Homo sapiens: one gene and its partners. Changing the gene in region 1 together with any one later gene gives a genetic interaction. Each region holds a gene or a part of one and is shown in the gene's direction. Other genes may lie near its edges. The genes, in order: MCM9, STK11 and NF2.

Evidence for each region.
Region 2: changes in MCM9 (region 1) and STK11 together harm fitness more than expected from each alone (negative genetic interaction), as found in Homo sapiens cells (one large-scale study listed by BioGRID).
Region 3: changes in MCM9 (region 1) and NF2 together harm fitness more than expected from each alone (negative genetic interaction), as found in Homo sapiens cells (one large-scale study listed by BioGRID).

The regions. Positions count from the first base shown.
Region 1 is NC_000006.12:118,816,589-118,820,239, reverse strand, and holds part of MCM9 (DNA helicase MCM9), read left to right. Parts: intron 1-3,651. UniProt on the Homo sapiens protein: Component of the MCM8-MCM9 complex, a complex involved in the repair of double-stranded DNA breaks (DBSs) and DNA interstrand cross-links (ICLs) by homologous recombination (HR).
Region 2 is NC_000019.10:1,212,157-1,215,807, forward strand, and holds part of STK11 (serine/threonine-protein kinase STK11), read left to right. Parts: intron 1-3,651. UniProt on the Homo sapiens protein: Tumor suppressor serine/threonine-protein kinase that controls the activity of AMP-activated protein kinase (AMPK) family members, thereby playing a role in various processes such as cell metabolism, cell polarity, apoptosis and DNA damage response.
Region 3 is NC_000022.11:29,669,482-29,673,132, forward strand, and holds part of NF2 (merlin), read left to right. Parts: intron 1-2,344; coding exon 2,345-2,467; intron 2,468-3,651. UniProt on the Homo sapiens protein: Probable regulator of the Hippo/SWH (Sav/Wts/Hpo) signaling pathway, a signaling pathway that plays a pivotal role in tumor suppression by restricting proliferation and promoting apoptosis.

The DNA.
Region 1 (3,651 bases):
AGGGAAAGAACTAAAATTGACACCCTAACATCACAATTAAAAGAACTAGAGAAGCAAGAACAAACAAATTCAAAAGCTAGCAGAAGACAAGAAATAACTAAGATCAGAGCAGAACTGAAGGAGATAGAGACACGAAAAACCCTTCAAAAAATCAGTGAATCCAGGAGCTGGTTTTTTGAAAAGATTAACAAAATAGATAGACCGCTAGCCATACTAATGAAGCAGAAAAGAGAGAAGAATCAAATAGACACAATAAAAAAATGATAAAGGGGATACCACAACTGATCCCACAGAAATACAAACTACCATTAGAGAATACTGTAAACAACTCTATGCAGATAAGTTAGAAAATCTAGAAGAAATGGATAAATTTCTGGACACATAAACCCTCCCAAGACTAAACCAGGAAGAAGTTGAATCCCTGAATATACCAATAACAAGTTCTGAAAGTGAGGCAGTAATTAATAGCCTACCAACCAAAAAAAGTCCAGGACCAGACAGATTCACAGCCAAATTCTACCAGAGGTACAAAGAGGAGCTGGTATCATTCCTTCTGAAACTATTTCAAACAATAGAAAAAGAGGGACTCCCCACTAAGTCATTTTATGAGGCCAGCATCATCCTGATTCCAAAACCTGGCAGAGAGACAATAAAAAAAGAAAATTTCGGGCCAGTATCCCTGATGAACATTGATGTGAAAATCCTCAATAAAATACTGGCAAACTGAATACAGCAGCACATCAAAAAGCTTATCCACCATGTTCAAGTCAGCTTCATCTCTGGGATGCAAGGCTGGTTCAACATACACAAATCAACAAACGTAATCCATCACATAAACAGAACCAGTGACAAAAACCACATGATTATCTCAATAGATGCAGAAAATGCCTTCAATAAAATTCAACACCCCTTCGTGCTAAAAACTCTCAATAAGCTAGGTGTTGATGGAAAGTATCTCAAAATAATAAGAGCTATTTATGACAAACCTACAGCCAATATCATACTGAATGGGCAAAAGCTGGAAGCATTCCCCTTGAAAACTGGCACAAGACAAGGATGCCCTCTCTCACCACTCCTAGTCAACATAGTATTGGAAGTTCTGGCCAGAGCAATCAGGCAAGAGAAAGAAATAAAGGATATTCATATAGGAAGAGAGGAAGCTAAATTGTCTCTGTTTGCAGATGACATGATTGTATATTTAGAAAACCCCATCATCTCACCCCAAAACTCCTTAAGCTGATAAACAACTTCAGCAAAGTTTCAAGATACAAAATCAATGTGCACCAATCACAAGCATTTCTATACACCAATAATAGAGAGCTGAATCATCAGTGAACTTCCATTCACAATTGCTACAAAGAAAATAAAATACCTAGGAATACAACTTACATGGGATGTGAAAGACCTCTTCAAGGAGAACTACAAACCACTGCTCAAGGAAATAAGAGAGGATACAAACAAATGGAAAAACATTCCATGCTCATGGATAGGGTGAATCAATATTGTGAAAATAGCTGTACTGCTTAAAGTAATTTATAGATTCAATGCTATTCCCATCAAGCTACCGTTGACTTTCTTCACAGAACTAGGAAAAACTACTTTAAATTTCATATGGAACCAAAATAGAGCCGGTATAGCCATGATAATCCTAAGCAAAAAGAACAAAGCTGGAGGCATCACGCTACCTGACTTCAAACTATACTGCAGGCTACAGTAACCAAAACAGCATGGTGCTGGTACCAAAACAGATATATAGACCAATGAAACAGAACAGAGGCCTCAGAAATAACACCACACATCTACAACCATCTGATCTTCCACAGACCTCACAAAAATAAGCAAGGGGGAAAGGATTCCCTATTTAATAAATGATGCTGGGAAAACTGGTTAGCCATATGCAGAAAACAGAAACTGGACCTGCTCCTTACACCTTATACAAAAATTAACTCAAGTTGGATTAAAGACTTGAATTTTAAACCTAAAACCATAAAAACCCTAGAAGAAAACCTAGGCAGTACCATTCAGGACATAGGCATGGGCAAAGACTTCATGACTAAAATACCAAAAGCAATTGCAACAAAAGCTAAAATTGACAAATGGGATCTAATCAAACCAAAGAGCTTCAGCTCAGCCAAATAAACTATCATCAGAGTGAACAGGCAACTTATAGAATGTGAGAAAATTTTTACAATCTATCCATCTGACAAAGGGCTAATATCCAGAATCTACAAGGAACTTAAAAAAATATACAAGAAAAAAAGCCATCAAAACTGGGTGAAGGATATGAACAGACACTTCCCAAAAGAAGACATTCATGCAGCCAACAAACATGAAAAAAAGCTCATCATCACTGGTCATTAAAGAAATGCAAATCAAAACCACAATGAGATACCATCTTACACCAGTTAGAATGGTGATCATTAGAAAGTCAGGAAACAACAGATGGTGGCTAGGCTGTGGAGAAATAGGAATGCTTCTACGTTGTTGGTGGGAGTGTAAATTAGTTCAGCCATTGTGGAAGACAGTGTGGCGATTCCTCAAGGATCTAGAACCAGAAATACCATTTGAACCAGCAATCCCATTACTGAGTATACACCCAAAGGATTATAAATCATTCTACTGTAAAGACACATGCACACGTATGTTTATTGCAGCTCTATTTACAATAGCAAAGACTGGGAACCATCCCAAGTGCCCATCAATGATACACTGGATAAAGAAAATGTGGCACATATACACCATGGAGTACTATGCAGACATAAAAAAGGATGAGTTCATATCCTTTGCAGGGACATGGATGAAGCTGGAAACCATCATTCTCAGCAAACTAACACAGGAACAGAAAACCAAACACCACATGTTCTCACTCATAAGTGGGAATTGAACAATGAGAACACATGGACACAGGGAGGAGAATGTCACACACTGGGGCCTTTTGGGGGGTGGGGTACAAGGGGAGGGAGAGCATTAGGACAAATACCTAATGCGTGTGGGGCTTAAAACCTAAATGATGGGTTGATAGGTGCAGCAAACCACCATGGCACATGTATACCTATGTAACAAACCTGCATGTTCTGCAAATGTATCCCAGAACTTAAAGTAAAAAAAAACAAGAAAGTTGTCCTTCTGGCAATATTTCAGTTTCTAATATGCCCAAGATATTTAAAATGATTTAAAATCATTTAAAATGATTATCACTGAACAGATCTTTCATTCGTAGAAAGTAAATAGATTTTAATTCTGTATCAAATTGATAAAAGAGTAGCTGCCCAGTAAATATGTTTAAACATGCCTGGGCTTTGCAGGAAAGATTGTCACAGTTGCCTGGGGAGGTCTGCCATGAATGGGAGTACAGGAGGCGGCAGTGTGAGCACCAGTACAGAAGTATCACAGACTCTTGACTCCTGAGGAAGGTGACTGCTCAGATGCACTCAGTACCTCAACTGGGTAAAGAGATGTGAGACCTCATAATCCCCAGTCTTTCACTTTGGTTCCTTGATCTGCAAACTGACTACTAAGCAAGTTAGCCAACAACCTACTTGGTCAGCAATCAGCTACTGTGTGGGTAGCAACAGGTCTGTCTTGTATTTGAACATTTAACATGAGAGATAAAGCTGAGGATTTTACACTGATCTTCAAACAATCTTAAAT
Region 2 (3,651 bases), on another chromosome or scaffold:
CTCTCAGGATCTGGGGCGCTGCTGTAGCTGTCGGGGAATCAGTGAGGCGGCTGGACGGCCCGTATATCCCACAAACGCCACCGTATTGCTCAAACTGGACTCAATTTTCTTAACACCTTTTTTTTTTTTTTTTTTTTTTTTTTTGGAGACAGGGTCTCACTGTATCGCCGAGGCTGGAGTGCAGTGGCGCAATCATAGCTCTGGGCTCAGGTGACCCTCCTGCCCCCAAGGTAGCTGGGACTGCAGATGTGCACCACCACACCCGACTAGTTTTTTGTAGAGATGGGGTTTCGCCATGTTGTCCAGGCTGGTCTCAAACTCCTAGACTCAAGCTATCCGCCTGCCTGGGCCTCCCAGAGTGCTGGGATTACAGGTATGAGCCACTGCTTCGCCACGTTCACCTTTATTTACTTATTTATTTATTTTTGAGACGGAGTCTCGCTCTGTCCCCCAGGCTGGAGTGCTGTGGCACGATCTTGGCTCACTGCAAGCTCCGCTTCAGCCTCCCAAGTAAGCTGGAACTACAGGTGCCTGCCACCAAGCCTGGCTAATTTTGTTTTTGTATTTTTAGTAGAGACGGGGTTTCACCGTGTTAGCCAGTATGGTCTCGATCTCCTGACCTTGTGATCCGCCCGCCTCGGCCTCCCAAAGTCCTGGGATTACAGGCTTGAGTCACTGTGCCCGGCCCACCTTTTTATTTTTTATTTTATAGAGACAAGGGCTTGCTGTGTTGCCCAGGCTGGTCTTGAACCCCTGACCTTAAGTAATCCTCTCTGGCCTCCCAAAGTGCTGGGATTACAGGTGTAAGCCATAGTACTGGGCCTAAAGTTCACCTTTTTTTTTTTTTTTTTTTTTTTTGAGATGGAGTCTCGCTCTGTCACCCAGGCTGGAGTGCAGTGGCGTGATCTTGGCTCACTGCAAGCTCTGCCTCCCGGGTTCACACCATTCTCCTGCCTCAGCCTCCCGAATAGCTGGGACTACAGGCGCCTGCCACCATGCCCGGCTAATTTTTTTGTATTTTTAGTAGAGATGGGGTTTCACTGTGTTAGCCAGGATGGTCTCGATCTCCTGACCTCGTGATCTGCCTGCCTCGGCCTCCCAAAGTGCTGGGGTTACAGGTGTGAGCCACCGCACCCGGCAAAGTTCACCTTTTTAAAGTGTGTAATTCAGTGGCATATAGTACATTGACAGAGTTGCACAACTATCACCTCTATCAGCTTCCAGAACATTCTTGTTACCCCAGAAGGAAACCCCGTCTCTGTCAGCCATCACTCCCCATTCCCTCCCCAGTCCCGGCACCCACGCATTCCCTTCCTGCCTCTGGATTGGCCTGTCCTGAACATTTCACACGAGTGGTGTCACACACCGCGTGGCCTTTTGCGTCCGGCTTGTCTCACGGAGTGTGCTGTCCTCAAGGGGCATCCGCGCCGTGGCCTGGGTCCGAACCTCTCTGCTGTTCACGGCTGCGTCACTTTCCAGTGTGTGGAGGGCCACGCTGCGTTTGACTGCTCATCTGTGGCTGGACACTTGGGCTGCTCCCGCCTCTGCCTGTGAATTGTGGCTGCTTTGGTGCACGTGTGCTCAGCCGGCGTCCCTCTAGAATCCTTGAGGGCCTTGTTTCAGCCACATCAGGAGGGATTCAGGGACCAGGGCACGCGGGTCTGGAGCTGGGTGTTCCTGGGTCTCCATGTGCCTCCCAGTCCTGCTCTGAGCCGTGGGAGGCCGGGGCGAGGGCCAGGCCCATCTCTTCCCTGTATGATCTGTTTCTAGGCAGACGGAGGCTCCTAGCCCCACCTCTCTGTGAGCTTGAGTGGCGTTTATGACTCTCCTTCCTATTTCCTGTCCTGCTAATCAACAAGTCAGCTAAACAGTCCATGCTGCCTGGGCAAGCCCAGTAGGCCCCTAACGTGGCACCTCGGAGCGGCTGGCGATGCCCCAAGAGCCGGGCTTCCCCCTCCTGGAGGCTCTTCCTGTTCCTCGCCAAGCTCTTAGGTTTCGCTGGGCCTCCTCTTCTGCTCTTTTTCTGGCTGGAGACGTCAGAGGAAGCCTGGCGATCTAGAGAAGCTGATGTGCACCCATCATCCCGGAGGTGACTGCCACCAGGCGGGGGTGGCTCCACCCCCACTCCTCCCCTGGCATAAATCGGGGGACGCACGTGCCTGCGCAGAATGCCTTGGTCCCTTTTAATTAAACAGACAACCCAGTGTCCCTTGGTCTATGCTGACCTGCTCAGGAGTGCCTGGGCTCTTCCACGTTTCAGCTGCTGTGTGTCCTGCTGCTGTGAAGTGTCCCCGTTGAGGTGGAGGCAGGGCAGGGCGCCTTCGGTGAGGGCGAGTCCTCCTGTGCCCGTTTCCCCATCTGTAGAATGATGGCTCATGGAGGAGACATGGTGTCGGCAGGTGGTGGCCGGCGCAGGGAGGTTTCCAGGAGGGAGTCCTCCACCCTCATTTGCTTTTAGGGCCGTGCAGCCTCCCGAGCGGCCCCCACGAGGCTCTGAGGCTGCATGCAGGTTGAGCTCCTGGCCTCACTGCCCCTCCTCAGGGTTAGGACTGTGCTGGAGCCTGGGTGGGTGTGGGGTGGTCCCTGCACAGGCAGCAGGAGGTGGGCCAGAGCGGTGCTGGACCTGAAGGCCCGTGGCTCCCTCAGCTCCACTGAGGAGGCTGGAATAGTGTCCTGGGCCACCTTCCCTGCCGGTAGCCGGCTCCTGCTGAGGGAGGGGGTGCTTTCGCCTCCTGGTGGAGCATCAGGCTCTTGGGGCCTGTGCGTCCGAGCATCTGGCCTCTGCTGTCTGAAAACAGCACCTTCCCCGCCCCCCGGCCACCGCATCTCCTCTGAATAGAAGGCAAGTCTTGCCTCCCAGGAATGGCCTGTGACCTTCATCAGCGGGGGAGGTTAGGGGCACACAGAGCCCTGGGGAACAAGGGGATCTGGGGCTGAGCCGGGCCTCTCGGGCCCACCCCGAGCTCTCCTGAGCAGCCTGGCAGGCAGGAAGGCGCTGGGCCCCGGGGCCTTTGCCGAGCCCAGCCTCACCCTCAGCGTCCCCCTCAATGCCCTGGGTGCCTGCCAGGCTGTGGACACAGGCCCTGGCCAGTTCTATAAATAACCTTGCCGGGCCCTGCTGGGAATTGGTGCCACCACCACATAGCCCAGAGAGAACGGAAACACAGGGCTTCTCAGCGAGCAGACCAGGCCTGCGGTGACCAGTGGAAGTGGGGGACGCTTTCAGGGCTGGGCAGCCCGACAGGGCACCGGGCACAGCCAGGGGCCGGAACCAGTTGCTCACTGGCTCCGCTTCTGGGGGACTGTGTCCCTCTGTGCCCCGTCCCCATCACACCTTGCTTTCCCTTCATCCTGCTCTCCTAGCCCCTCCCCAGACTGGCGGCCCCTTGTCCAGGCCCAGCCCCAGCACAGCCTGCAGCCCTGGCAGAGCTCAGGCCTTGGCCTTCTGAGGTTGCCCTGAGGGCAGTGAGCAATGAGCCCTGGGACTGGTGCACTGGGAGGGAAAGGTGAGCCAAGGCTTCCTGCAAGAGGCAGCCCTGAGCTGGGGGTGGGGAAGGCTGGGTCGTGGGATACCCCTGACACCCCAAGTTTTTTTTTTGAGATGGAGTCTTGCTCTGTCACCCAGGCTGGAGTGCAGTGGTGAGATCTCGA
Region 3 (3,651 bases), on another chromosome or scaffold:
GGGTGACCAAGCAAGACCCTGTTTTAAAACAGAAGCAGAAACAAAATACCAAAATAAATAAATAAATAAGTAAATAAATAAGAAGGAGGAGGAGAGCTTTCTTTGACCTTTTTCTTAGCAGAGCAAAGCTTAGAAGTAAGAAATCTGAAAGTGTCAGGGAATATGCAGTCTGTGGGCCCTGGCAGAGAATAGCAGGAACACTGCAGATCGGCACTGCTTACAGCACAGCAGAGCCACAAACCTGGCATCTGGGCAACCACAGATCAGGTGGACAGACACTGACCTTGGAGCCAGATCTGAAATTTAGAATGTGAGTAAGTCAATGACTTACCTTCCAGACCTTAGTTTTCTCATCCATCAGGTGAAACTAATGATATACCTTCTCCATCTCAGATGAAGGGACGTATATTACACCTTACAGTCTTTGTATGCAGTAAACTTCTTTTGTGAATAGGAGGTCTTTTATATTGGGGTAGAGGTCTCAGGGAAAGTACAGGGCCAGGAACTGAAGGAGATTACCTGGCTTTTTTTTTTAATAAAAGGGTCTTGTTCTGTCACTGAGGCTGGAGTGCAGTGGTGCCATCATAGCTCACTGTAACCTCAAGCTCCTGGGCTTGAGCAATCCTTCTGCCTCAGCCCCTCAAGTAGCTGGGACTACAAGTGCATGCTACCACACCTAGTTAATTTTAATTGTTTCGTAGAGATCAGGTCTTGCTATGTTACCCAGGCTGATCTCAAACTCCTGGGCTCAAACATTCCTCCTACTTCAGCCCCCCAAAGTGCTAGGGTTACAGGCATGAGCTGCTATGCCTGCCTGGCCTGACTGGGCTTTTTCTTTCTTTCTTTCTTAGTTTCTTTTTTTTTAAAAGAATTGTAGATATGTAGTAAGCCACCTTATGGAAATTGTAATATGATGGAAATTAGAGAACAAATTGGCCAAGCTTTTCATTGACTTACAAGGAGAAAATTGGAGAAGAACTTTCACTGTTTTATTGCTTGTCTTTGCATTATCTTTTTGAGCTTGTGTGTGTGTGTGTGTGTGTGTGTGTGTGTGTGTATTTGGCTTAGGATTTAGAAAAAGCAGCAGTCTTAGAAACCTTGTATGACCAGAGTGTGGGATAAGATTGAAGCAAGAAGTAATTAAATGTGCTTTAATTATTTAAGGCAGAAAATAGTGCAGTGGTCACTTCTGGGTTCTGCTTTTTGAACTCAGTTAGTACCCTGGGATCACAGAGGAATGGCACTGTCTTGTGCTTGTTCCCCTTATTAAGCTCAGCATGTGGCCCAATTAATGCAGTGATCCAGAAGGCAAGGGAGGTAGTGGTGGCTTTGTGCTGTTGCCTTAAGGACACGGGGCTGTGTTTCCCGCCTGGCTCCCTCCTGTCCTAGGCCTGGCTCAGGAGTTGTCTCCACATGAGGCTGTGCAAGTCTGTGCTGTGGCTGTTGCAGCTCCCCCCTGTGAAATACAATGTGTGAACTATTGATGCATCACGTAGAATGATTCCATCTTCTCTGTGGGTCAGAGGCAAGAGTGGAGCTATTGTTGATGAAATCAGAGATGTGAGAGGGGTCCATGTGGATTAGAAATGGTGAGATGGCTTGCCTGCCCAGATGAGAAAGCTGCTTATTTCTGGGGCTCTATCTGAGGGAGGAGGTCCTGCATTGCATCCCATCGGCCATGGGGCAGAGCCACCTGGGGTTTCCCAACAAAAAGCAACATTGGCAAGGTAGCCATTTCAGTGCACCGTGTATAAGAATGCCTCCTTCTGCCAGGCGCGGCGGCTCATGCCTGTAATCCCAGCACTTTGGGAGGCCAAGGTGGGTGGATCATAAGGTCAGGAGTTCAAGACCAGCCTGGCCAATATGGTGAAACCTGATCTCTACTAAAAATACAAAAATTAGCCAGGCATGGTGGCGGGTGCCTATAGTCCCAGCTACTCGGGAGGCTGAGGCAGGAGAATTGATTGAACCTGGGAGGCGGAGGTTGCAGTGAGCCGAGATCGCGCCACTGCACTCCAGCCTGGGTGACAGAGCAAAACTCTGTCCCCTCCACCAAAAAAAAAGAATGCCTTTTTCTATCCGGGTCAAGACTCAACAGGTTTTTATTGTTTGTTCATTTGTTCATTCACCACTAGACTGTTTTTCAAGTGGCACAGCTTTCAACTCTGCAACTGGTTTAGAAGGACGGGGTGGGGGGCAATAAGAATGACCCTGGCTACCTAAAGGAAAGGGAAGGAAAAAGGTCCCAAAAGGGGAGACTGGAGATGGGGCATCTTTGGGCCCTTGTGGCACCCTAGGTCTCGAGCCCTGTGATTCAATGACTGTTTTTCTTCACCCCTCGCAGATGGAGCGGCAGCGCCTCGCTCGAGAGAAGCAGATGAGGGAGGAGGCTGAACGCACGAGGGATGAGTTGGAGAGGAGGCTGCTGCAGATGAAAGAAGAAGCAACAATGGCCAACGAAGCACTGGTGATTTCTGAGGGGCTGGGGTTCCAGGAGGCTACTTGGGGACTTCCTTGGCTTTTCTGGAGCTTGGTCTCCTGAAAACCATGAGTTAGCAGCGTTTGCTTTGAAATACTTAATTTCAGCTTTGAAAAAATCAGTGCCTTTTCTTTTCACCTGTGTTGGCAGAAGCAGATTTAGGTTGAGCTTATGTGCAGCCAAACTCCACTTTCACCACGAGGTTGCCTTTATAGCAGGGCTTCTCAGCCTGGGCACTACTGACATTTGGGGCTGACCATCCTTTGCTGTAGGAACTAGATCCCAGTAGCAGCACCTCACCCTCCATTTGTAACAATCCAAAACATCTTCAGACATTGCCACATGTCTCTTTTTTTTTTTTTTTTTTTTGAGACGGAGTCTCGCTCTGTTGCCTAGGCTGGAGTGTACAGTGGCACGATCTCAGCTTACTGCAATCTTCACCTCCCAGGTTCAAGCAATTCTCCTGCCTCAGCCTCCTGAGCAGCTGGGATTACAGGCATGCATCACCATGCCCAGCTAATTTTTGTATTTTTAGTAGAGATGGGGTTTCCCCATGTTGGTCAGGCTGGTTTCGAACTCCTGACCTCGTGATCTGCCCGCCTCAGCCTCCCAAAGTGCTGGGATTATAGGTGTTAGCCACCGTGCCCAGCTGTACTTTTATTTTTTTTTTTTGAGATGGAGTTTCACTCTTGTTGCCCAAGCTGGAGTGCAATGGCATGATCTTGGCTCACTGCAACCTCCGCCTCCTGGGTTCAAGCGATTCTCCTGCCTCAGCCTCCCAAGTAGCTGGGATTACAGGTGCGCGCCAACACATCCAGCTTTTTTTTTTTTGTATTTTTAGTAGAAATGGGTTTTCACCATGTTAGCCAGGCTGGTCTTGAACTCCTGACCTCAGGTGATCTGCCCGCCTCAGCCTCCCAAAAGGCTGGGATTATAGGCGTGAGCCACCGTGCCCCACCTGCCACATGTCTCTTGCAGGGGACAAAAAACTCCTCTGGTTCTAACCACTGATTTAAAGGGAAAGAACAGAGTTTAAGTTGTTTTTCTCCACGTGAAGCATAAGCCTGAGCTGAGGTGGGTACTCAGAGAAGGTGCTCTTGTTACTCCCCATGGGTGCAGCCCGAAGGGCCCTTCTGAAAAGTTGGGGAATGTGGCTTGTCATTTCTTGTCAG